Regions from separate parts of the Homo sapiens genome. Here all the other regions are linked to region 1. Evidence: fine-mapped expression QTL. A gene starts in region 1. Each other region holds a variant in brackets. All regions are shown on one strand. Distances are from middle to middle.

Region 1 (4,089 bases):
TAGCACAGCTTGTTTAAAAAAGTCAGTCAAGACAAATAAGTGCTGAGAGAAATGGGGGTCAATGAGTCTAATTCCAAATGAGCTTTCTCATCTATTTTAAGATCTGCTTCAAACTTCCTCAGACAAAAATCTGGCCTTTTAAGGAAAGTGCAGAGAACATGCCTTCGTGGGCTTAGTTTGAGGGAATAGGGGCTGCATTTCACCCTGGAGGTGGCTACATGAATTCGTGAACTGAGGTGACAACACTGACTCTCTCCGGAAGAAAAGATGCTATCTCTTCACGGAGTTTAATTACAATGGCACTACTTGAAACAAGCTGCAGCAGCAGCAACAACAAACGCTACTGTTAACCCAGTCACAGCTCAGCTCAATATTCAGATTAGAGAAAGCAAGAACCATTTTTTTCCCTGGGACACCCTTCTCTACTCAAATACCCGCTGAAAAAAAAATTCTGAGACAAGCACTAGGGAGTGGGGAAAGCGGGCAGAGATGAACAATAACCCATATTCAGGGGTTAGAAAAATAATATTAATAAATCATGGTAGGTTTTTTTGTTTGTTTTTGGCAGCAACTTGCCACTCTTCAGCATCATCCATCAGGAAATCTAGGTCGGAAAAGTGTACCAACTGACCTTCCAAATTTTCTGCATTTGGCAGATGCAAATCACACAGTCCATCCCCGCCCTCAGCACTTGGACGGTATCAGGGAAACGTAAGTATCAATGGAAGAATCTTGAAGTGAAAAATAAATAACTGGTCAGGTTAGGGTTAGTGTTCTTGTGTGCAAGGGAGCTAGTGAAGTTTAGGCTTTGATGCGCACCCACAGCGTCAGCAAAGGAGGAGGAATTAAGGGACAGCATGGGCCGAAAAGCCCCCGAGTTTTGAGGTCAAGCCAACGGGCTGGGTCTCCGGTATCCTAGGATCTGCCCTGCACACAACCTTTGGCAGTTTCTCGGTTTGAATCTCGCCTGTACATTTCCAGACGAGACACTGTCTTACTGAGCGTTCTCACAGCGCCTAGCTCAGAGCTGACCGCAGAGCCGGCTCTCAATAACATCGAGACGCAAAAGCAGCTTTTGAGGTTAGGGGCGGAAGGGCATCGGTTTTACTTATTTCAAGGCTGGCGCTCGGTGCAGCCGGATCCAACTGCCAGCACAATGTTCCCGATCACTTCTCGCTTCCATTTCAGCCCAGGAGACGTCGGGAAACCCACAGGACCCGCTAGGGGCTAAGCGGTTAAGCCGCGTCCTTCAGGTGTCAGTCTCGATCCGTTCGGAAACCACAACCTCCAGAATCCCTTGTGCCAGGAGGCCAGGCCGCAAATAAGATGGCTCCAGAAGGGTGGAACATACAGCGGGGGGGGGGGGGGGGGAACTTAGTTGTTGGCAGTTTCTTCACGGGATGTGTTTAAATTGCCGAGTCCCCACATACGCGCCACCCCACAAATCTCCTTCGAGGCCGTGGAGGCCACACGGCTGCCGCCTCGCCCTCTCCTCCAGGAGTATGCTGGGATTTGTAGTCCAGCAGCCGGACTGTGCCGAGCTACCTTTCCCAGCTTGCCCTGCGGCTCGGGTGATATCAACAGTCTTTTCCAGAACTCTGTCTGCACTGAGACCCTCTTCCCCCAGTCCTCTTCTCGCGGTCGACTCCTTCCCATCCGTGGCGACAGAACGGCGGTTGCAGGAGAGGCCCCGGTCCCTCGCCGCGCCGCCCCGAGGGGCACTTCCGGCGGCGGTTCACTTCCTGGTTGGGTGGATGGAGCCGGGCGGGAGCGCGCGCGGGGGAGGGGCGGCGGGTCAGTCTCCGCCCGGCGCTCCCGGGATCAGCTGGCGGGCGGGCGGGAGCCGAGCGCGGCCCCGGCTCTCGCTGCAGCGCCGCCTCTTCTCTGCGTCGCAGGCCGGCCCGGCGGCCGTGACAATGTCGCGGGGCTGGTAGCAGGGCGCCGGCCGCCGAGCCGTCTCAAGTGGGTGCTGCCAGGATGCCGCCTCGAGGGGCGGCGGGGAGACCCGGGAGGAGCGGGAGGCAGTGCCCGGGAGGGTCGGCGCTGCCGGAGCAGCTCGGATCCCTCCTTTCTCCGAGCTCCCGGCTCGGGGGTCCCGGGTTCTGGGGCCGGGGTCGCGTTTTCAGCCCCACGGTTTTTCTCGCCGGGAAAATACATGAAGCGTTTCCCCAGGATGATGGCTTTTGCTCCCCCTAGGACTCAGCGGTTGAATTTTTAAGCGTGTTACTGATTCATCCTCTCTTTCTTCCTCTGTCATCACAGGTTTAAACTTACACGAATCGCTTTCTGGAGGAGGAGGGGACCCGCTGCGCGATTGACACGCATATTCCTATAGGCATCCTCCCTCAGCCCCCACCCCCACGGCCGGATTCGGGTGGCTCCTCTCCGAGGTGAAATCTGAGAAGAAATCCTTGGATCTCTTTTCTTAAAAAAAAAAAAAAAAAAAAAAAATCTAGAAACCATCGGTATTTTGCTTTGCTGCTCCCTATTCGCAAGATGAAGAAGTTTTTCGACTCCCGGCGAGAGCAGGGCGGCTCTGGCCTGGGCTCCGGCTCCAGCGGAGGAGGGGGCAGCACCTCGGGCCTGGGCAGTGGCTACATCGGAAGAGTCTTCGGCATCGGGCGACAGCAGGTCACAGTGGACGAGGTGTTGGCGGAAGGTACGGTGGGGCTCAATGCGCCGTAAATTAAAATCTTGTGCTGATGCGGCAATACTGTGGTTTCTAGTTGTTGCATGTATGAATGGGCTTTGACCAGTTGACCCTCCCTTCCCCCTTCACTTGCCCTGTGAGTCATTGTCCTTGAGAGATTTAAAATTGAGATTTGAAAGTGACTGGGCTTATGGGGGTGTGGGGAGGTTGCCGAAATTGTTTACGTTAGTGGCCTTTTATTTTTATTTTTTTAATATTGAGAAGCCAAATTTTGAGGATCACACAAGAAAACGTATGTGTGAAAGTGTAAAGCTTTATGCCAAAGGCAGGGTGATGGGCTTGTCATCCTCCTAAAACTTAAAATCTTGATGTGAAGGCTGAAGGGTGGGGGGACTTTTAAGAAGAGAGGGGTTTCTCCTTCTCCTACCCAACTTTCCCACTTCCATGAGCAGGCATTGGAAGGAAGAGAGGATTTTCGGAGAACGTGAACGTGTTTTTCCAAGGGCCAAGGCTCTTGGTGGATTTCACTAGTAGATTTGTTTCCTGACCCAACTGTAATCAGGTCCCCAGGTTATAGCAAAGATAACAGAAATTACATAAAACAAATGTGGTTATTTTGAACTCAGTCTAGTAGGCCCCTCTTCCTTCTCGCTTTAGGTTTTGTTTTTTGTTTTTTTAATCAAAAGAAAAATTACTTGAGAGTGGCTCTGATTTTGTTTTTTCGCTATCAGAGAGGATGTTATTTAGATCTGCTGCATAAATTCCCTCTGTGTTTCATCTGTGTGTCTATACTCACGTAGATATACATCTTGATTCCCCCAGGCTTTCGGGAAATCTTTGCATGTCTCTTTTGGTAACCTTAACCTCGACCTTCATAATTATGCCAGACTCATACTTTTCACAGCCCTTCGCCTGCCTAGTGTGCTTTTATTTTTAATAAAAGCAGCAATTTCCTTGGCATGAAGCAATTCAGACTGATTGGATGGGGCCAACCTGCTGTAGGTTGTGTTATAGACCGAGAGGGGTTGGAAGAAGGGAGAGGTCTCTCTTACTGCAACATGGTGATGGTAGGGAACAGTTTTATTAGCAAGGGAAGAGAGAAAGCTAAGAGGCCTCTTTAAAAAGGGGCCTTTTGCAAGCTAAAGTTGAAGCAAGGGTCCTGACCTGGGCCTGGGAAATGCTTACCATGGTGGATGTTGCGGGCTGGTGGGTGGGTTTGGAAGAGGAAGAAGCTGTGTTTGGCTCTCAGCTTGTGTAAGCACTGGATTCAGCAGGGCCCAGTTTTCTGGGAATAGAGTTGAAGTCTGTACTTTAAAAACATGATTTTTAAAAAAGATCTCTGACAGTTAATGTCCATGTGAAATTATTGCTCTTCCAATCTCAGTACTGTTCTAGCTGCGCTTTATCTGGGGCCAGAGTCACTGTCCCCTTGGATCTTT
Region 2 (4,089 bases), 50 kb after region 1:
AACCTCTGCTGGCTTCAAACTTCTTCTGGAGCTTTCTTACCTCCCCAGCCTTCATAGAATTGAGGAGAGTTAGTGGTGCCTAGCTCTAGATTAGACTTTGGCGTAAGGGAATGTTTTGGCAGGTTTGTTCTTATATCCAGCACACTAAAACTTTATCCATATCATTCATGTAGCACTTCAAATTTCCTTCAAGAGGTTGGGTGCAGTGGCTCACGCCTGTAATCCCAACACTTTGGGAGGCCGAGGTGGACGGATCACTTGAGGTCATGAGTTCGAGACCAGCCTAGCCAACTTGGTGAAACCCCGTCTCTACTAAAAATACAAAAACAACTAGCCAGGTGTGGTGGTGCGTGCCTGTAATCCCAGCTACTCAGGAGGCTGAGGCAGGAGAATCGCTTGAACCTGGGAAGCAGAGGTTGCAGTGAGCCAAGATCACACCACTGCACTCCAGCCTGGGCAACAGAGTGAAACTCCATCTCAAAAACAAACAAAACAAAACAAAAAAGAAACAAAATCCTAGCTTTTTCCATGCTGATAGTGCTCACGCAAACATGGTGAACGTTCCTAAAACCCGCTGGACTTGTGTCAGAAGTGTGGCAAGCACCAACCCCACAAAGTGACACAGTAAAAAGGGCAAGGATTCTCTGTATGCCCAGGGAAAGTGGCGTTATGACAGGAAGCAGAGTGGCTGTAGTGGGCAAACTAAGCCGATTTTCTGGAAAAAGGCTAAAACTACAAAGAAGATTGTGCTAAGGCTTGAGTGCGTTGAGCCCAACTGCAGGTCTAAGAGAATGCTGGCTATTAAAAGAGGCAAGCATTCTGAACTGGGAGGAGGTAAGAAGAGAAAGGGCTAAGTGATCCAGTTCTAAGTGTTACCTTTTCTTTTATTATGAAGACAATAAAACCTTGAGTTTATATTCACTTAAAAAAAATTCCTTCAAGAACATTTTCTTTGCATTCACAACCTGGCTAACTGTTTGGTACAAGAGGCCTCACTTTCGGCCTGTGGTAATTAGACATAGTAGTGTTCTATTTCTTCAGTAGCCACATTCCTGGCAGTAGTAACCATGAAAACATGGCTCTCTGCTATGGTATTACCACACACCTCTGTCATGTGGTTAAGTATAAAGCACTGAATTGTAAATCATTTATTTTGAAATTCATTCATATAAACAAATAAGTTCAAAGTTATCCTCACGATAACATGACTGTCCTTCAAATTTTGATACGTTTTCTTGAGTGCAAAGAATGATGTGGAGGTACAGCTCTTACCCTAAGGGGCTACACACGATCCACAGGATCCTCCTACTTGAACTAGAGCCCTTATGTGGGTGCCAGATGTCCATGGGCATATGTCTTATTTTTGAATGTCTTTGGATATATGTGTTATGGTGGAGAGAGTTGAACAATTGTGCTAAAACCTAGCTTTGAATTTAGAGATATACCACTACCTCCCCTCCCCTTCCCAAAGAAAAATCTGGGGGCAGTAGAAATTGCTCACAAAAGCGGATTCCAACTTGTACCTTAGGAGAGACCCTGTCCCCTCCCTCAGTCTTTTTATTCTTTCTTGTTTTTATTAATGAGTTCTTATACTTTTGATTTACTGTTGAATTAAAAGCAATACATTAAAATGGAGAAGGACGCCAACCTGACAGTAGAGAACAATGGCAAGAGCCGCTAAGGTCAAAGACAGAAATGTTAAAGCTGGCAGAGGAGTTAAAAGGATTACAGTC[T/G]GGAGCTACCTAATGAGTGAGGGAAGTAGCATTGTACACTCTAGTAGCCTCTGAGGCATCCCAGCATTGAGTGAGAAACAGGTAATAAATGTTTGTGATGATTTCTCCAGTTAACTAGAAAAGGTGGAATTTTATCCAGTATACAGTTTGGAGCACTGAGATGTAAATAGTAGCTTATCTTGACAAATTTTACTGCAACTAATTCACATTAATTATAAATATTTAGAAACATGAAAGAAAAGATATATAAAACAACTCATATCACCCATAGATTTAATTACTTTTAGCACATTAGTATGGTATTTAGCTCTTCAGCCCTTTTCTATGTATAAAGATAGTATATAATAAGATATATTTGCATATTATATAAAATACATGTTATATAATATATATACCAAATTTATGTGTGAGAACATGAAGCCTGCTTTTTTATTTAAAAAAAATTTACTTGTGGTAAAAATACACAATAAAAAGTATACCCTCTTAACCATTTTGTAAAGCCTGTTTTTTTAAACTCAATAATATGTTGTGAACATTTTTCCATATCACTGAGTATAGATGTTTATTTTAAGGCTGCATGGATATACCATAATCTAGTTAGTCAATTTCCTAGTGCTAAATATTTAGGTTTCCAACTTTGGTTATTAACACTGCATAAAGCATCTTTAAATATATATACTTCTACATTTCATCAGAGTCCCAAAATAATTGTTGGATCAATGGATGTCTACTTTCTGAATGCTTCCAATGTATCTTATCAAAGCACACTTCTGTTTCACTATATTCTTGCCAATATTTGATGTTATAATTCTTTTAAATTAATGTTTATGTAATTTAGTCTTTAATACTAAAAATGCAAGCAGCAGTGGAAACTAAAGTCAATGAGAAAATGCATTTTAGGGAATGTGACGCATGAAGTTATTCAGGCTTATAAACTAGCAAACCACTGGTTCTGTAAGAGAAGAACTTAACACAGCAACTATTTAGAACACAGGCATGATGAGCCTTAAGACACTCACTTGTTCATGGAGTGTACAAAATTCATGTAAGTCTTCATGAATGTGAAGAAATGCCTCATAATTTGAAGAAGAGATGTTAAATGAGTCCAATTATCATAAGCCAAATCTGTGAATCTCAGGGTAGAACTGTGAATCTCAGGGTAGAACTTTATTGAATTTTGTGTAACATTTTTGATGTTGAAACTTTTTTTCACTTGCCACTAACTTTGTGGGTTTTGTTTTATTTGCCACAGAGAAGTTTCACATTTTAATGAGGAAGAAATGAATCAAATTTTTGGTTACTCTTTTCATGTTATGTTTATAGAAAACCATCTCTACCTCCAAAGTTATAGTACAGTTGTAATTTTCTTTTAGCAGTTTTACAGTTTTATTTTTGACACTTAAGTCAGAAGTTGCAAACATTTTTATTGAATAGACCGCTGTTGTGGGGGGCTGTCCTGTGCATTATTAGGATGTTGGCATCCCTTGACCTCTGCCCACTTGATGCCAGCAGCACCCCTTGTCTCCCCAGTTGTGACAACTGGAAATGTCTCCAGATATTGCCAGTTGCCCTCTTTGGGCCAAAACTACCCTCTCTTGAGAAGCAGTGGTATGATAAACCTTAAAGTGAGTTGAGGCAGTACCCAATAAGAAACACTGGCAGGACAAGAGACCAGTCATTGGCTGAGTGGAATACTCAGGTCGACTATTTCTTGAAAATTGTATTCTAGTCTAGAGATTGGAGATACTGGGAATTTGGAGCGGTCTTCCTTTTGTTGCAGTTTTGGATTCCAAACTGCAATGAAAGATCTTGGTTCTTCTGCTTCACTTCCTCATTTGCTCTTATTGACCTCTCTGTGGACTAGGAGAACCAGGAGAGGGTAACTGGGAGTTATTAATAAAAGTGTTAGGAAAATTGTCAGCAGATGCCTTGGTGACATCTTGTTCCAACTTTCCAATTTAAGCTCCATTAAACTGGCTGTGGTCTTTGTGGTTTGAAATATAGAACAGGCCAGGCGCAGTGGCTCACGCCTGTAATCCCAGCACTTTGGGAGGCTGAGGCGGGCGGATCACGAGGTCAGGAGTTTGAGACCAGCCTGACCAAAATGATGAAACCCCGTCTCTGCTAAAAATACAAAAATTAGCCAGGCGTGGCGGTGGGCACCTGTAATCCCAGCTACTCAGGAGGCTGAGGCAGGAGAATCGCCTGAACCTGGGAGGCAGAGGTTGTAGTGAGCCGAGATTGCGCCACTGCACTCCAGCCTGGGAGGCAGAGGTTGCAGTGAGCCGAGATCACGCCACTGCACTCCAGCCTGGGAGACAGAGCGAGACTCCCTCTCAAAAAAAAAAAAAAAGAA
Region 3 (4,089 bases), 170 kb after region 1:
GCTTTCTTCTTCTCAGGCCCACATGTGTCCTTAGAGGGGAAAGAACTAAACAACTTTTGAAAGTTTTTCTTATCAAAAGTCTTTACTAGTGAAGTTTTAAAACTACCTCCTTGTATGGAAAACTTGAGTATCTCCTAGATACTGTGTTATAATACCTCTCAGTGAGAATATTTACTAAGACTTAGACGACCGGCCAGTTGTGGTAGCTCAGGCCTGCAATCCCAGCACTTTGGGAGGCTGAGGTGGGAGGATCACTTGAGCCTAGGAATTTGAGACCAGCCTGGACAACATACGGAGTCTCAGTCTCTACAAAAAAATTTTTTAATTAGCCAGCCATGGCAGCATGCACCGGTGGTACCAGCTTCTCGGGAGACTGAGGTGGGATGATTGCTTGAGGCCCGGAGGGCAAAGCTGCAGTGAGCCATGATCGCACCACTGCACTCCAGCCTGGGCAGCAGAGCAAGACTCTGTCTAAAAAAACAAAAAAAATAGCAGACAGGTACTAAAAATAAATAAAATTAAATCTGAAAAAAGCCCTAGACAACAGATTGGTGAAAGTATTGCTTTCTGGCAAGAACATAGAATGCAGATATTCCATGTTACCTTTAAGAGCTAGATACCTTTGCAGTCAATTCAAGTAGATGGTTGAAGTGACTATCTACTGCCTGCCTATAATGATCATATGATGCTTGTTGGCCTTAGAATGTAAAATGGTTTTATCATATCTGATTCAAAGTTATTGCATAGTGATGACTGCAATAAAGAAATAAGCATCTTTCCTCAAAAGTCAGTCCTTGCAAGGTTGAACTTGTAGAAGTTTTGAATTTTAGTTCACCTTCAAGTCATGATTGGTTACTGGATTTCTCTTTCTAATCTACTATTTTCATTTTTCAGTCTTGGGTTAATAGTGGTCTGAAATCCTGGACAGAGGTAGCTTGAATCAGATTCTATTCAATGAGCAGTTTGTGACAGTGTCAGGCTCAATGCCTGGCTTACTTTGTTACTGAACTTTCTGTGATTGGGTAGTGAAAGTAGTCTTCTGGAAAGAGAAAATGTGTAGAAAAGAAAGAGCTTAAGTCCCTTCAGGAGAAAATTCAAGAAGGAAGCCTCCCCAGAATGACTAAAAATAATCACCTCTGTGGTTTGCAATGGTAATAGCTGAGTTTTTGTTTTTACCCGTGATGACATTAAAATGATTATGTTTTTATAGATTATGTAGAGGGAAGTTACCTATTTAGACAGTGATGTCTGGCAGGAGTATGTCAGCAGCAATGTAGAATTACAGAGAAGCATCATTTGCAAAATAAGTGCTCAGCCAGCACTTGCTTGCTGTTAGGGTAGCTTTAATTAGAATGGAGAAGACTATTCTAACAAACTTCTACTTGAGGCCTCAGTGCGTGTGATCTTGTGCCTCAGCGTTCCCTGAGGCTTCTGAGTTGTTTCAGTGTCTTTTTTTCCCAGTCACAGTGCAGTGAGTCCTTCCAGCAGTATTTTGTTTGCATTATATACAGTGGTTACTTCTTAAAGAGCCACCAATTCTCTTCCTCCTCCCCTGCCCTGCCCCCAAGCCCCGGTTTTGAGTTTTTCAAATATTGTTTGGCCTCTGTTCCCTCAGTGAAGACAAGTGACTTATTCCTATGCCTTTGTGGATTAGTGACAATGAAGAGATACCTCACAATAATTATAATTAATGTCTTATAAATAATAGAATTCTTCCAAGAACCCTTTTCCCTAATCATT[A/TA]TAAAAGTCAACATGGCCAACTCTAAAGCATTTTTTTCTATATCTCTGTATTTTCCAGTTTTGCTATTTTTATTTCAACTCAGAAAGATAAATCCTTTCACCTTTGAAAATAACAGGGCTGTACAGTTGAGATCTTTGTGCCTCTTTCACATTCTCTCATTTGCTAATCTCTGCCTCTGTTGTTTCTGCTTGTGTACTTGCATTCTGTATTAAGCTGCAGAAGATAGTAATCTCATCTCAGGTTTTGATGTCCCTGAGGGCTCGGACAAGGTGGCTGAAGATGAGTTTGACCCTATTCCTGTATTGATAACCAAAAACCCACAAGGTAAGAAAAAGGATGGGGAAAAGAGAAGAGCTTGGCCTCAGTTCTCTTCAAAATAGTCATGCACCTAATCTGCAAGGGGGAAGAAAAGCATCAACATTTAATGAAGGACATTGGGTGTAATGAGAATCATTGTAGGCTGGACCAATAGAGATAGATAGAGATAGGTATCTTTAAAGTTTGACCGTGGTGTTTATTTAGAGAGAAGTCTTTAACAGTTGGCCAAAAGTTAGTTTTTACCATGAAGCCAAAAGCAAAATGATCTTTAGTCAGTGGAAACCTGAAGGTATATATCAAAAGCACATCACATTTTTTATCATGATTAGAATAATCCATAATAAATATTTTTCCCAAAGAGATTAACAGCTGTGTTTTGGTATCATTCACATCTTTTTGACATTAATGGAGCATCCTTTTTCAACTTTGATGGAGGAAAATCATGTGAACATGCCATAAAACACTAAATTACCATGGGACCATCTATTTATTTTTTAAAGCATGTTCTTATTGCAGTATCTTAATAACTAGTTTCTCCCCAAAGCAAAAATTATTGATTTTTACTTTATCAAAGGGAGATGGCTTGATATTATCAGGAAGTTGGTATATAGCCAGCAATTCTCAACCAAAAAAAGTATTGATTTGAAAATAGTGCCCTCTTTGCAAGATGTCCTACCTATACTGTGGTGTGCACAGAGTGCCTGAGCTTTTGGTGGGAGGTGGTGGACAGCTAACTTACATGTTTCAAAATCAACGTGTAAGGGTTTGCAAATGTAAAATATTGCTTCTCTAGGGTTTGGTTTTTTTGGTTTTTTTTTGTTTTGGTTTTGGTTTTGGTTTGGTTTTTCTTCTTTGCTTGCTCTGCACATCTAAACCTTAACCCTCTATGTTTTGTACTGAATTCCTATCTCTCCACTTCCAGGTGGGCACTCTAGAAACAGCAGTGGGAGCTCTGAGTCCAGTCTTCCCAACCTAGCCAGGTCTTTACTGCTGGTGGATCAGCTCATAGACCTGTAGCCGTGACCCAGTAGCAGATGCAGTTCTGTAACCTTCATACCGTAAAATACATTTTCATTACGGAGTTATGAAAAAAATGATTTTTTTAAAAAAATCTGCAAATAAGGGGCCCTCCAGCCCTTTTCTCCTACCCCTTGCCTTCTCCTGTAGAAATGATAAGGAAAGAAAATCACTTTGGCCCTCCAGATATTCCTTGGCCAGTTCCTCCTTGTTAGTTTGCTGTGTTTTCTCATTACCCTTCTTCAATAGCATTATCTTAAATCAAGCACTAGATGCCATGAGCTTCACCTCTGCTGGAATCAACTCCACCAAAAGCTTAACTGTAACTGAAACTAGTGAATTGACACTTTTGTCTCGTTCTTGCTAGGAATGGCCTCCCAGATCAATTCTCCCAACCCCCGTCTCCTTTGGCCAGATGCTGATGAATGTATTTCCCTGTTTTTGCTTTTTATCCTGATGCATTATCATGAGGACATGGCTACTTCAGTTGGTCTTAACTCTAGGCAGTAGCCTGGAGATGGGTGTGTGGTTTAAGAAAGGGTAAAACTTACTGACTGGTAGTATATATTTGAGAAGAGAAATTGAGCCCAGCTCTAGCCAACCAACTTTGACCTTGTTTGATCATAGACTTAGCCAAGGGATTTTACACCCCATGCAACCTGCCCAGCATTCGTCCAGCTTTCTGGCTTCCATTGAACCGTGATTTCTCAGATCTGGAGACGTGACTGCAAGTATTTGAGATCCTTGGATACAATGTGTACGTTATATAAATCCCAAGTATTGCCATTCCTTTTCATGTTAACTGTTCCAAGTGGGATCTCAGAATTAGACCAAAACAAGACGGTGGTAATATGATACCTTTTATTAGAAGACTTTTCACTGGGGCGGGGGTGGGGGGAGGATGGGGAGGGGAAGGAATTGTAGCAGAAACAGATGTATTTTTCTTGTGATTTTTATTTTGAATCAAATATTGTAAATTGTGTATAAATGAAGATGCTGAATAGTTCTGTTTC
Region 4 (4,089 bases), 26 kb before region 1:
TTATTCTGTAAAATGTCTTGACAGGTCTTTTTTGCATTGCTTTTTCTCTTGTGTTGTTTCTTATTGATTCACAGGAGTTCTTTACATATTCAGGATGCTAAACTTTACTGTTACTAGAGTTGCAGATATTTTGATTGAGTTTTAGCCTGTCATTTTATGCATTTTATGGTATTTTTATAAACAAAAGTTATTGATTTTAATGTAGTCTCAAATTTATCATTTTTTAAAGGTTTGTGCTTTTTGTGTTTTATTTAAGGAATCCTTCTCCACCCCAAAGTCATAAAGCTATTCTACTCATTCTATTATCTAAATATTTAAAACATTTGCTCTTCACATTTTAGGTCCATTCTGAATTGATTATTGATGGTATTCCCTTCTTTTTTTTTTTTTTTTTTTTTTTTGAGATGGAGTCTGACTCTGTCACCCATGCTGGAGTGCAGTGGTGTGATCTTGGCTCACTGCAGCCTTGACCTCCTGGGCTCAAGTGATCCTCCCACCTCAGCTTCCTGAGTAGCTGAGCCTACTGGTGTGCACCATCATGCCTGGCTAAATTTTGTATTTTTGGCAGAGACAGGGGTCTCACTATGTTGCTCAGGCTGGTCTCAAACTCCTTAGCTCAAGCAGTCTGCCCTGTTTCAACCTCCTAGAGTGCTGGGATTACAGGTGTGAGCCATCACGCCTGACCCTGAATTGATTTTTATGATTGATGTAAGGTAAGGGTCCACTTTCATTTTTTCCGTAGATAACCAAATTTTCCAGTACTATTTACTCTTCCCCATGTATATGTCATCTATCAGGTCTCCATTTATCCATAGGTCAATTTCTGGTCTCTCTATTCTGCCAGTTGTCTATCCCTGTGCCCATGCCACATTGTCTTAGTTACTATAGCTTTATAATTAGGGTGACCTTGCTTCAAGTTTACTGTGGACCAGTCGCCATCTCTATTTTAGCATTTGTCTCATTTGTCTTTTTTTTTTTTTTTTTTTTTGAGATTGAGTCTCGCTCTGTCGCCAGGCTGGAGTGCAGTGGTGCGATCTCAGCTCACTGCAACCTCCACCTCCCAGGTTCAAGCAATTCTCCTGCCTCAGCCTCCCAAGTAGCTGGGACTAGAAGTGTGTGCCACTACACCCAGCTAATTTATGTGTTTTTAGTAGAGATGGGGTTTCACCATGTTGGCCAGGATGGTCTTGATCTCTTGACTTCTAGTGATCCACCTGCTTCGACTTCCCAAAATGCTGGGATTACAGGCATGAGCCACCGTGCCTGGCCATTTGTCATTTTTTAGCCACATATTCATAGTTGCTTTATAATATGCTGGAATGATTTTGGTAAACTTTCACTTTGTGCTTCAGTTCCTACCCTGTCTCTAGTGTATAAGACACGTGTGCAGCAAACACAGGTTTGTGACACAAGGTTAAAAGTGGAATATCACTAGTAATGATCAGTACTTTTCCCCCCAACTCTTCCCAGAGGCAAGATAACTATTAAGTCTCTTTCAAGGGCAGTCTGCTGGGCACTTATCAGTAAAATAAGGCAAGGAAGGTGAAGTCTTTACAATCTTGAGTAGCGGTGGGAGAAGTATTAGATGTGCCTGCTCCTGATAACTATTTGGTATACAAGACAGTAGGATGAGGCCAGCCAGGCAACAGAGTCAGTGGGAAACATGAGAAATTCTAGATTAGATTATATAAACTATGTGCAGGAAATAAAGGCTGAACAGTCCTGCAATAAAGAATATAGAAGGTACATGGACACTCTTGTTACAGTGGTTTTGGTATTTATTGTATGGTAAAATCTATGATTCTTTTTTTTTTTTGAGATGGAGTCTCACTCTGTCGCCCAGGCTAGAGTGCAGTGGCGCGATCTCGGCTCATTGCAACCTCTGCC[G/T]CCTGGGTTCAAGCAATTCTCCTGCCTCAGCTTCCCAAGTAGCTGGGATTACAGGTGTGTACTACCATGCCTGGCTAATTTTTTGTATTTTTAGTAGAGACAAGGATTCATCATGTTGGCCAGGCTGGTCTCAAACTCCTGACCTCCAGTGATCTGCCCACCTCTGCCTCCCAAAGTGTTGGGATTGCAGGCGTGAGCCACTGCGCCCGGCCTTATGATTCTTTATAAACAAAAATTTGTTTGGTTACACCCTTATACTGGTAATAAATTGTTTGACAAAAATGGGCTCAAAGAAGGCCAGGCGCAGTGGCTTAGGCCTGTAATCCCAGTGCTTTGGGAGGCCGAGGCGGGTGGATCACCTGAGGTCAGGAGTTTGAGACCAGCCTGGCCAAAATGGTGAAACCCCATCTCTACTAAAAATACAAAAATTAGCCAGATTAGCCGGCGTGGTGGCACACACCTGTAATCCCAGCTACTCGGGAGGCTGAGGCAGGAGAATCACTTGAACCTGAGAGGCGGAGGTTGCAGTGAGGCGAGATCGCACCACTGCACTGCAGCCTGGGTGATAGAGCGAGACTCTGCCTTCAAGAAAAAAAAAAAAAGGCTCAAAAGGAATGGAAATAAAGTATATGTTTAAATAAATAATTTTAATTTCTCAAGAAAATACATGATGACTATATAACATTTGTGTGTCAGCGTTTACCATCTTGTGGGACATGTGGTAATATTACTGACCACGTGAATACCAGAAGGCAAGCCTGCTGCAGAAGCCAAAGTGTCTCATTCCACAGACAGGAGTTATACACAGCGTAATATGGCTGTGCCTGAAGACAATGAATTTCCACATGCAGAAGGTGAGTTTTACATATCACTCAGTGAAACCTAACTTCATCAAGATGAAATGACGGTTCTAAATTAATATTTTTTATTATACACATACATGTATGTGTCTATACATATATAATGAGAAAGATATATATGTGTATATTTACCTATACACAAATGTAGAGAGAAATACCTGGAAGACTGTATCTCAAGAGTGATTGTCTCTAGGAAAGGGACAATTCATACTTTTTTTAAAAAAATTTTTTGTAGAGACAGGGTCTCACTATGTTGCCCCAGGCTGGTCTTAACTCCTGGGCTCAAGCAATCCTCCCACCTCAGCCTCCTAAAGTGCTGGGATTACAGGCATGAGCCACCATGCCGTATATCATACTTCTTTGTCTTCATTTAGCTTGTCTATGTTCTCTGACTCATTCCTTATACTTCTGTAATAACAAATAAAAATAGAAAAAAATTTCACTTGGAGGGGAAATGACTGAATTCATAATCTTTAGTAAACAACCTAGAGTTTATAAAACAGATAAGCATGGACTTATAAACCGGTCCATGCATAGTATTAATGGCCCCAATTAAAGGCTACCCGGCTCCACACTCTTTGCCTTGTAATTTTATTGTCCCTTCCTCCTGTTACTGAACATTCCTCTGGTAACATACTTAGGCCAATGGAATGTTATCAGACATGAGACGAGCAGGGACTTGAAAAGCACCTGTGCATTTCTGCATGCTCACTAGTGCATCTCTGCCTCAGCATGACGGCTTGTCCCGGCTAGCCCAATGGAGGAATGCAAAGACACATGGAGAAAAGCAGAGACCATCCTAGTCCCACAAATTCCAGTCAACCCCCAATACACAAGAGAGCCCAGCCAAGATCAACTGCTGATTCCGGGTGCAGCAGCAAGTCCCATCTAAGCAGGAAGAATGGCTCAGCTGCCATGGCCTTGGGAGCAATAAAAATGAGTCTTCAGGTGCTTTGTTACCCACATTGTTGGGTCAATAGATAACTGATAATAAAGAATAGATCACATGCTATGTGGAGAGGAGAAGAAAAGGACAAAAGAGACAAAAAAGAGAGAGAAGAACTGACATAAATGTTGCCACAGCATCCCCATACATCACATCACAGGATATCCTGTCCAGTTCTCTACAGATAGGCCAGAGTATTTTGTACATCGGACTGAATCAGTCTATAACACTTTTATGGGACTTTTATTTTTCTTTCCTTTTTTTTTTTTTCAGGTCAGATGGGTAATGTGCCGAGGTCATAACAAGGTTTGAGTGTGGCACATCTCACACATGTGCGTGAATACCAATCATTATGCCCATGAACTACAAAAGGATCTCTTTCTTTTTTTCAATAGC
Region 5 (4,089 bases), 200 kb after region 1:
TCTGCAACTAGCCCTCCCCAACCTGCCCAGAAATTTCCTCTTAGAAAGGTGGCTGGAGCTAAAGGCATAGTCAAGGTTAATGCTCCTTTCCTTTATCTGACCTTTCCCAAATCGGTTAGTGTTTAGGCTCTTTTTCATCAAATATAAAAACCCAGCCCAGTTCATGGCCTGTTTGGCAGCAACCCTTAGACTCTTTACAGCCCTAGACACTGAAGGGTCAGAAGGCTGTTTCATTCTAAATATGCATTTTATCACCCAGTCAGCTCCTGTCATTAGAAATAAAGCTCCAAGAATTAAATTCCGGCCCTCAAACCCCAAAACAGGACTTAATTAACCTCACCTTCAAGGTGTACAATAATAGAGTAGAGGCAGCCAAGTAGCAATGTATTTCTGAGTTGCAATTCCTTGCCTCCACTGTGAGGGAAACCCCAGCCACATCTCCAGCACACAAAAACTTCAAAACGCCTGAACCGCAGCAGCCACGTGTTCCTCCAGGACCTCCTCCCCCAGGAGCTTGCTACAAGTGCTGGAAATCTGGCCACTGGGCCAAGGAATGCCCACAGCCCGTTATTCCTCCTTAGCCATGTCCCATCTGTGTGGGACCCCACTGAAAATCGGACTCTTCAACTCACCTGGCAGCCACTCCCAGAGCCCCTGGAACTCTGGCCCAAGGCTCTCTGACTCCTTCCCGGATCTTCTTGGCTTAGCGGCTGAAGACTGATGCTGCCCAATCACCTTGGAAGCCCCCTAGACCATCATGGATGCCAAGCTTCGGGTAACTCTCACAGTGGAAGGTAAGCCCGTCCCCTTCTTAATCAACACGGAGGCTACCCACTCCACATTACCTTCTTTTCATGGGCCTATTTCCCTTGCCCCCATAACTGTTGTGGGTATTGATGGCCAGGCTTCTAAACCTCTTAAACTCCCCAACTCTGGTGCCAACTTGGACAACATTCTTTTATGCACTCTTTTTTAGTTATCCCCACCTGCCCAGTTCCCTTATTAGGCTGAGACATTTTAACTAAATTATCTGCTTCCCTGACTATTCCTAGGCTACAGCCACACCTCATTGCTGCCTTTTCCCCCAGTTCAAAGCCTCCTTCGTGTCTTCCTTTCGTATCTCCCCACCTTAACCCACAATTATAGGATACCTCTACTCCCTCCATGGCAACCGATCTCAAGCCCTTACCATCCCATTAAAACCTAATCACCCTTACCCCGCTCAACGCCAATATCCCATCCCATAGCACACTTTAAAAGGATTAAAGCCTGTTATCACTTGCCTGTTACAGCATGGCCTTTTAAAGCCTATAAACTCTCCTTACAATTCCCCCATTTTACCTGTCCAAAAACCGGACAAGCCTTACAGGTTAGTTCAGGATGCACACTTTATCAACCAAATTGTTTTGCCTATCCACCCTGTAGTGCCCAACCCTTACACTCTTTTGTCCTCAATACCTTCCTCCACAACTCTCTATTCTATTCTTGATCTTAAAGATGCTTTTTTCACTATTCCCCTGCACCCCTTGTCCCAGCCTCTCTTTGCTTTTACCTAGACTGATCCTGACACCTATCAGTCTCAGCAGCTTACCTGGGCTGTACTGCCACAAGGCTCCAGGGACAGCCCTCATTACTTCAGCCAAGCTCTTTCTCATGATTTACTTTCTTTCCATCCCTCCGCTGCTCACCTTATTCAATATATTGATGACCTTCTACTTTGTAGCCCCTCCTTTGAATCTTCTCAACAAGACATCCTCCTGCTCTTTCAACATTTATTCTCCAAAGGATATCGGGTATCCTTCTCCAAAGCTCAAATTTCTTCTCCATCCGTTACCTACCTTGGCATAATTCTTCATAAAAACACACATGCTCTCCCTGCTGATCGTGTC[T/C]GACTGATCTCTCAAACCCTAACACCTTCTACAAAACCACAATTCCTTTCCTTCCTAGGCATGATTGGATACTTTCACCTTTGGATACCTGGTTTTGCCATCCTAACAAAACCATTATATAAACTCACAAAAGGAAACCTAGCTGACCCCATAAATCCTAAATCCTTTCCCCACTCCTCTTTTCATTCCTTGAAGATAGCTTTAGAGACTGCCCCCACGTTAGCTCTCCCTGACTCATCCCAACCCTTTTCATTACACACAGCCAAAGTGCAGGGCTGTGCAGTTGGAATTCTTACACAAGGACCAGGACCATGCCCTATAGCCTTTTTGTCCAAACAACTTGACCTTACTGTTTTAGGCTGGCCATCATGTCTCTGTGCAGTGGCTGCCACCGCCCTAATACTTTTAGAGGCCCTCAAAATCACAAACTATGCTCAACTCACTCTCTACAGTTCTCATAACTTCCAAAATCTATTTTCTTCCTCACACCTGATGCATATACTTTCTGCTGCACTACACTACCTCTCAGCAAGCCAAACTCATTGCCTTAACTCAAGTCCTCACCCTTGCAAAGGAATTATGTGTCAATATTTATACTGACTCTAAATATGCCTTCCATATCCTGCACCACCATGCTGTTACATGAGCTGAAAGAGATTTCCTCACTATGCAAGGGTCCTCCATTATTAATGCCTCTTTAACAAAAACTCTTCTCAAAGCTGCTTTACTTCCAAAGGAGGCTGGAGTCATTCACTGCAAGGGCCATCAAAAGGCATCAGATCCCATTGCTCAGGACAATGCGTATGTTGATAAGGTAGCTTAAAAAGCAGCCATCAAAAGGCATCAGATCCCATTGCTCAGGATGATGCTTATGCTGATAAGGTAGCTAAAAAAGCAGCTAGAGTTCCAACTTCTATCCCTCATGGCAGTTTTTCTCCTTTTCATCTGGCCACTCCCACCTACTCCCCAACTGAAACTTCCACCTATCAATCTTTTCCCACACAAGGCAAATGGTTCTTGGACCAAGGGTCTCCTTCCAGCCTCACAGGCCCATTCTATTCTGTTGTCATTTCATAACCTCTTCCATGTAGGTTACAAGCCGCTAGCCCATCTCTTAGAACCTCTCATTTCCTTTCCATCGTAGAAATCTATCCTCAAGGAAATCACTTCTCAGTGTTCCATCTGCTATTCTACTACTCTTCAGGGATTACTCAGGCCTACATATCAAGCTCGGGGCCACCCAGGACTGGAAAATTGACTTTACTCACATGCCTCAGTGAGGAAACTAAAATACCTCTTGGTCTGGGTAGACACTTTCACTGGGTGGGTAGAGGCCTTTCCCACAGGGTCTGAGAAGGCCACCGCAGTCATTTCTTCCCTTCTGTCAGACATAATTCCTCGGTTTGGCCTTCTCACCTCTATGCAGTCCGATAACGGACTGGCCTTTATTAGTCAAATCACCCAAGCAGTTTTTCAGGCTCTTGGTATTCAGTGAAATCTTTATATCCCTTACCGTCCTCAGTCTTCAGGAAGGGTAGAATGGACTAATGGTCTTTTAAAAACACAACTCACCAAGCTCAGCCACCAACTTAAAAAGGACTGGACAATACTTTTATCACTTGCCTTTCTCAGAATTTGGGCCTGTCCTTGGAATGCTACAGGGTACAGCCCATTTGAGCTCCTGTATAGACGTTCCTTTTTATTAGGCCCCAGTCTCATTCCAGACACCATACCAACTTGGACTGTACCCCAAAAAACTTGTCATCCCTACTATCTTCTGTCTGGTCATACTCATATTCACCATTCTCAACTACACATAAATGCCCTGCTCTTGTTTACAGTGCCGGTTTACACTGTTTCTCCAAGCCATCACAGCTGATATCTCCTGGTGCTATCTCCAAACCGCCACTCTTAACTCCTTCTTAAAGTAAATAAATAATCTTTGCTGGCAGGGCTATGCTGAACCTCCTTGGGCACTCTCTAATTAGATGTACTGGGTCCTCCCAATTCTTAGTCCTTTAATACCTGTTTTTCTCCTTCTCTTATTCCTTTTAGTTTTTTAATTCATGCAAAACCATATCCAGGCCATCACCAATACTTCTATACAACAAATGTTTCTTCTAACAACCCCACAATATCACCCCTTACCACAAAATCTTCCTTCAGCTTAATCTCTCCCACTCTAGATTCCCACGCTGCC
Region 6 (4,089 bases), 57 kb after region 1:
CACAGATCACATGTGCCATTGGATAAAAATAAATAATGCAGAGGAACTCAATAAGACCAGCCTGTTTAAAGGAGACATCATAAAAACCTCCATTAAAAAAAGAAAAAAAAAATCATGTAGCTGTGGTAGCAAGTATAAAACAAATGTAAGAACTGAGGAGTAACAAAATGATGCAATTAGCTTAGCACCCACAGATGGTTTCAGATACACTCAGATGTCACAGGCATCCAGGACTAGGCCTGCTTTGATCATTTGGAGGGCAGGATTTCTGGATACCTGCGTCACCTGTAGCCATCTACTGCTGAAACAAACCGTTATAACAGAGAGGGAGTTCTTAGTTAAGGGAATGGGTTTACTCTTCTTTCTTACTATAAGGGATGGGGAAACTGATGTCCGTGACAAATACTGAAAGTGGAGCATGTCCTATATCAGCAAAAGTTCCCATAACTAGAGTTTTTCTGAAGGTGCAGGTGATGTCAGGTACCCACCTGATGGGCCTTACTTAGGAAAGAAGGGGGTGGAGGAGACAGGGATGAACATTTGTTAAGAGCTTCTGTGTTTAGATGTGTGCCGGGTGCTTTATGATGCTGTCTCACATAATCTTCACAATAACCTCTGTGGAACAGGGGATGGTTGCTCATGTTATATGTGAACTCAGGTCACGTTACTATGGAGTGTTGGCTGTGGGATTTGAACCCTTATCTAACTCCAAAGTCTTGCTCCTTAGAAATGAAGCAGGTTTGGCTGGGCATGGTAGCTCATGCCTGTAATCCCAGCACTTTAGGGAGGCTGAGGTAGGAGGATCGCTTGAGGCCAGGGGTTCAAGACCAGCCTGGACAACATAGTGAGACCTTGTCTCTACAAAAAATTTAAAAAAAAGAAAAAAGAAATGAGGCCTGGCATGGTGGCTTATGCTTGTAACTCCCAACATTTTGGGAGGCCAAGGTAGGAAGATCACTTGAGCCCAGGAGTTCAAGACCAGCCTGAGCAACATAGTAAAACTCTGTCTCTACAAAAAAATTTAAAAATATTAGCTGGGCAACTGGGTGCAGTGGCTTACACCTGTAATCTCAGCACTTTGGGAGGCTGAGGCAGGTGGATCACCTGAGGTCAGGAGTTCAAGACCAGTCTGGCTAACATGGCGAAACCCAGTCTCTACTAAAAATACAAAAATTAGCTGGGCATGGTGGCATGCCCCTGTAATACCAGCTACTTGGGAGGCTGAGACAGGAGAATCACTTGAACCCAAGAGGCGGAGGTTGCAGTGAGCCGAGATCCCGCCACTGCACTCCAGCCTGGGCAACAAGAGCGAAACGACATCAAAAAAATATATATATATATATACACACACATATATACATATACACATATGTATATATATGTGTATATATACACATGTGTATATATGTACACACGTGTGTGTATATATGTGTGTGTACACGCATATGTGTATATATGTGTGTGTGCACGCATATGTGTATATATGTGCGTATATATACATGCGTATATACGTGTGTATACATGTGTGTATATATACACATGTGTATATATATATAAGCTGAGCATGGTGGCAAGCCCCTGTAGTCCTAGCTATTCGAGAGGCTGAGATGGAAGGATTGCTTGAGCCCAGGAGGTCGAGGCTGCAGCGAGCTGTCAGCATGCCATCGTACTCCAGCCTGGGCAACAGAACAAGACCCTGTCTTTAAAAAAAAAAAAGTTTTTTTTTAAAGAAAAGAAATGAGGCAGGTTTGCTTTAGAAAATGAAAGCTGCTGATTTGGGCAGAAAGGCAGAAGATATGGAAGAAGGACCCAGCCTCAAGTCCCTTGTTCCTTGAAGATTAGAAGATTACTGCATTTGAAAGCATGGTGCATTGGTTCTCACAGCTAACTGCCTATTAGGCTCACCTGTGCAGATTTTACCCTCCGCCCGACCCAAACCCACCACCCTAAGGATTTTGAATCTCAGTATGTTCCAGCTGGGAAACTGGAGAATTATCTTTTTAAAAACTTCCAAGGTGATTCTGATGTGCTGTTAGAATTGAGAAACTTTTCTGTGTCTAAAGAACAATGGAATGAATGTGAGCCCGGGAGTGGCCCTAGGGATAATCTTTCCAACTCTTTTGTGATATAGGAGAGAAAACTAAGGCCCAGAGATCTCAGAAGCCAGACACTCCTTCATTCAGTAGTTACCGAGCATTGACTTTGTTATTCTAGGTGATTCAGA[C/A]AATGCAAAGAAAAATACTTTCCTTGTCTTTGAAGAGTTTTTAGCCTAAGATCACATAGCTGGTTAATGCAGAGCCACAATTGGAACCCAGGTTTCCTGACGTCTTTTGTGTTTTTAAGCCTTTTGAATATTGTCATTGCCAGGCCCTCTTTGAGCTCCTGAAGCTCTGTAAATGGTTCCTCAACACTGTGGTAAGTTGCCTCCAAAGCCCATGGTTACCTTGTGCCAAAAGTCCCCTGCCTGCCTTTCTGCCTCATTACCAGCCTGGTATTCAACCACCCACTTTGCCTTAGGTTCATAGGCCCACAGGTTTTCAGTTGACTGCTTTGTTCTCAGTTCATTTTTAAGCATCTCACCTGGAAAAGGCCTGAAAAAGCTGCATAATGATTATTTTAGAAATGCAGTGCTTAGACAAAACCTGCCCCACTGGTGGTCACCCTGATCTCTTTGCTATTCTTTTTAATGAGTTCATAATCCTCCGGTTCATCTCACAGTGTTCTTGTAGACTGCATATTTTTCGGAGTTTTTCCCAGACCCCTTGGGGCAGTGACGTGCGGAGGGCAGGGAGCACTCCGCACCAATCAGGCAGAGGGTGGTGCCAGAGGGAAGGTGGAGGGAAGAGTTGTTTGCCCAGCACTGTGCTAGGCCAATTTTTGTATATTTTTTTCTTTAGTGCTTTTCAATAGCTTTGGGGGAGAAAGTTTCCACATCTGTAAAATATGGATAATAACTGAGGCTTAAAGAAGTTAAGTAACTTTCTCAAGTTTATGTAAACAAGTTTCATTGCTAGAAATCAAACCCTGGAAACTACTGACTGAAAGGTCATCCTCTTTTCCTAGTACCATATGCCACATCATATGTAAAACTTTTGATCTAGTCCAAACATACTTTTTGGGTAAGTGATTCTTAAATTTGGTTTCTGGTATTTTTCAGTAGGTTTTAGAACTCAAGGCTGCCTTTAACGATGCAGGAGAGATACAGGACTTTGGACAGGACTCTGGAGAGGAGGGTAGCGTTAGGTATTGGAGTCTGAGAATTGCAGTGATGACAGGCACCAAGCTCCTAGGCCAGCCCATTGGAACCAGGGGCCAACATAACTACTGTCCCAGTCCAGGGTCAGAACTTGGAAAACTCAGTGCCGAAGCATAAATGTTAACCAGAGGTCCTTGGGGAGTTGGGGTGGTGTGGGGACATGGACCTCTAGCTTAAGAATATCTCCTGGCTGGGCGCAGTGGCTCACACCTGTAGTCCCAATACTTTGGGAGGCCGGGCCAGGAGGATTGCTTGAAGCCAGGGATTTGAAACCAGCCTGGGCAACAAAGTGAGACCCCATCTCTACAAAAAATTAATTTAAAAAAGAATATCTCTTATATGTTATGCCAATTGGAGATTATAGATCTCTCCTTTTCATAGAATAGTCTCTTCTTATAATCCTCGATTAAAGCTTGAATTTTTATGTAGTTTTTTTGGATAACACTTATCTGGACCTCAGTTTTTGAATCTACAAAATGATAATTTGGGTTTATTGTGATGAGGAAATGGGAACATGTATGTAGATGACTTTTCTTCACTGTAGACTATTCATACAGATATGAGATGGGTATGAGACCCAGGATCCCTAAAAACAGATTGGTAAGAAAGGCAGTGTAGTTGTTGGGCAAAGGGAACAGTGATTTTTAGAGTGTGGAAAGCTCTAGGAGAAGGAGGGAGACCAGAGTGGGGATGCTGCACTGGAAGTGAGGTGGAAGGCTTTAGATTTCCTGGTGAGTAATCGAGGTCTCTGAGTGCCTGGGGTTGAAGGTTGAGGGAGTTCAAAGACTTGATGCTGACCTGGGATCTTACTGAGACCAGTCGCTGCCTGTGTG

Alleles and levels. Alleles are on the strand shown, and positions count from the first base shown. SD is a standard deviation of normalised expression in the study named. Not every link is listed here.
In carriers of allele G in region 2, the expression in thyroid of the gene that starts at base 1,798 in region 1 tends to be lower than with T alone (moderate effect, 0.47 SD a copy in GTEx).
For the expression in skeletal muscle of the gene that starts at base 1,798 in region 1, A is the high allele of the variant in region 3 and TA is the other (small effect, 0.15 SD a copy in GTEx).
In carriers of allele T in region 5, the expression in tibial artery of the gene that starts at base 1,798 in region 1 tends to be higher than with C alone (small effect, 0.24 SD a copy in GTEx).

What was found. PIP is the estimated chance that this variant, and not a neighbour inherited with it, causes the effect.
Region 2: its variant is the best candidate, but not a certain one, in a credible set for the expression of AAK1 in thyroid (GTEx, PIP 0.68).
Region 3: its variant is the best candidate, but not a certain one, in a credible set for the expression of AAK1 in skeletal muscle (GTEx, PIP 0.51).
Region 4: its variant is the best candidate, but not a certain one, in a credible set for the expression of AAK1 in whole blood (TOPMed, PIP 0.53).
Region 5: its variant is the best candidate, but not a certain one, in a credible set for the expression of AAK1 in tibial artery (GTEx, PIP 0.55).
Region 6: its variant is the best candidate, but not a certain one, in a credible set for the expression of AAK1 in nasal epithelium (TOPMed, PIP 0.84).

The regions. Positions count from the first base shown.
Region 1 is chr2:69,641,448-69,645,536 of GRCh38, reverse strand. AAK1 (AP2 associated kinase 1) reads left to right here and starts at 1,798. Exons shown (of 22, transcript NM_014911.5): 1 at 1,798-1,962; 2 at 2,263-2,659. The coding sequence starts at 2,497. It also overlaps a transcript of ANXA4 not described here. RefSeq lists enhancers at 12-614, 1,370-1,639 and a silencer at 1,720-2,049.
Region 2 is chr2:69,591,521-69,595,609 of GRCh38, reverse strand. All of the region lies in intron 2 of AAK1 (AP2 associated kinase 1), which reads left to right. It also overlaps the pseudogene RPL36AP16. Among named protein-coding and RNA genes, the nearest start is that of AAK1, 50 kb to the left of the region's middle. The variant T/G (reference allele first, on the strand shown) is at 1,734.
Region 3 is chr2:69,474,856-69,478,944 of GRCh38, reverse strand. AAK1 (AP2 associated kinase 1) reads left to right here. Exons shown (of 22, transcript NM_014911.5): 21 at 1,955-2,065; 22 at 2,982-4,089. The coding sequence ends at 3,076. Among named protein-coding and RNA genes, the nearest start is that of NFU1, 39 kb to the right of the region's middle. The variant A/TA (reference allele first, on the strand shown) is at 1,741.
Region 4 is chr2:69,667,338-69,671,426 of GRCh38, reverse strand. It overlaps LOC124906149 (small nucleolar RNA U13), which reads right to left and starts at 4,068; the gene lies at 3,966-4,068. It also overlaps a transcript of ANXA4 not described here. The variant G/T (reference allele first, on the strand shown) is at 1,888.
Region 5 is chr2:69,443,540-69,447,628 of GRCh38, reverse strand. No RefSeq gene overlaps it. Among named protein-coding and RNA genes, the nearest start is that of NFU1, 8.1 kb to the right of the region's middle. RefSeq lists an enhancer at 2,381-2,937. The variant T/C (reference allele first, on the strand shown) is at 1,890.
Region 6 is chr2:69,584,717-69,588,805 of GRCh38, reverse strand. All of the region lies in intron 2 of AAK1 (AP2 associated kinase 1), which reads left to right. Among named protein-coding and RNA genes, the nearest start is that of AAK1, 57 kb to the left of the region's middle. The variant C/A (reference allele first, on the strand shown) is at 2,225.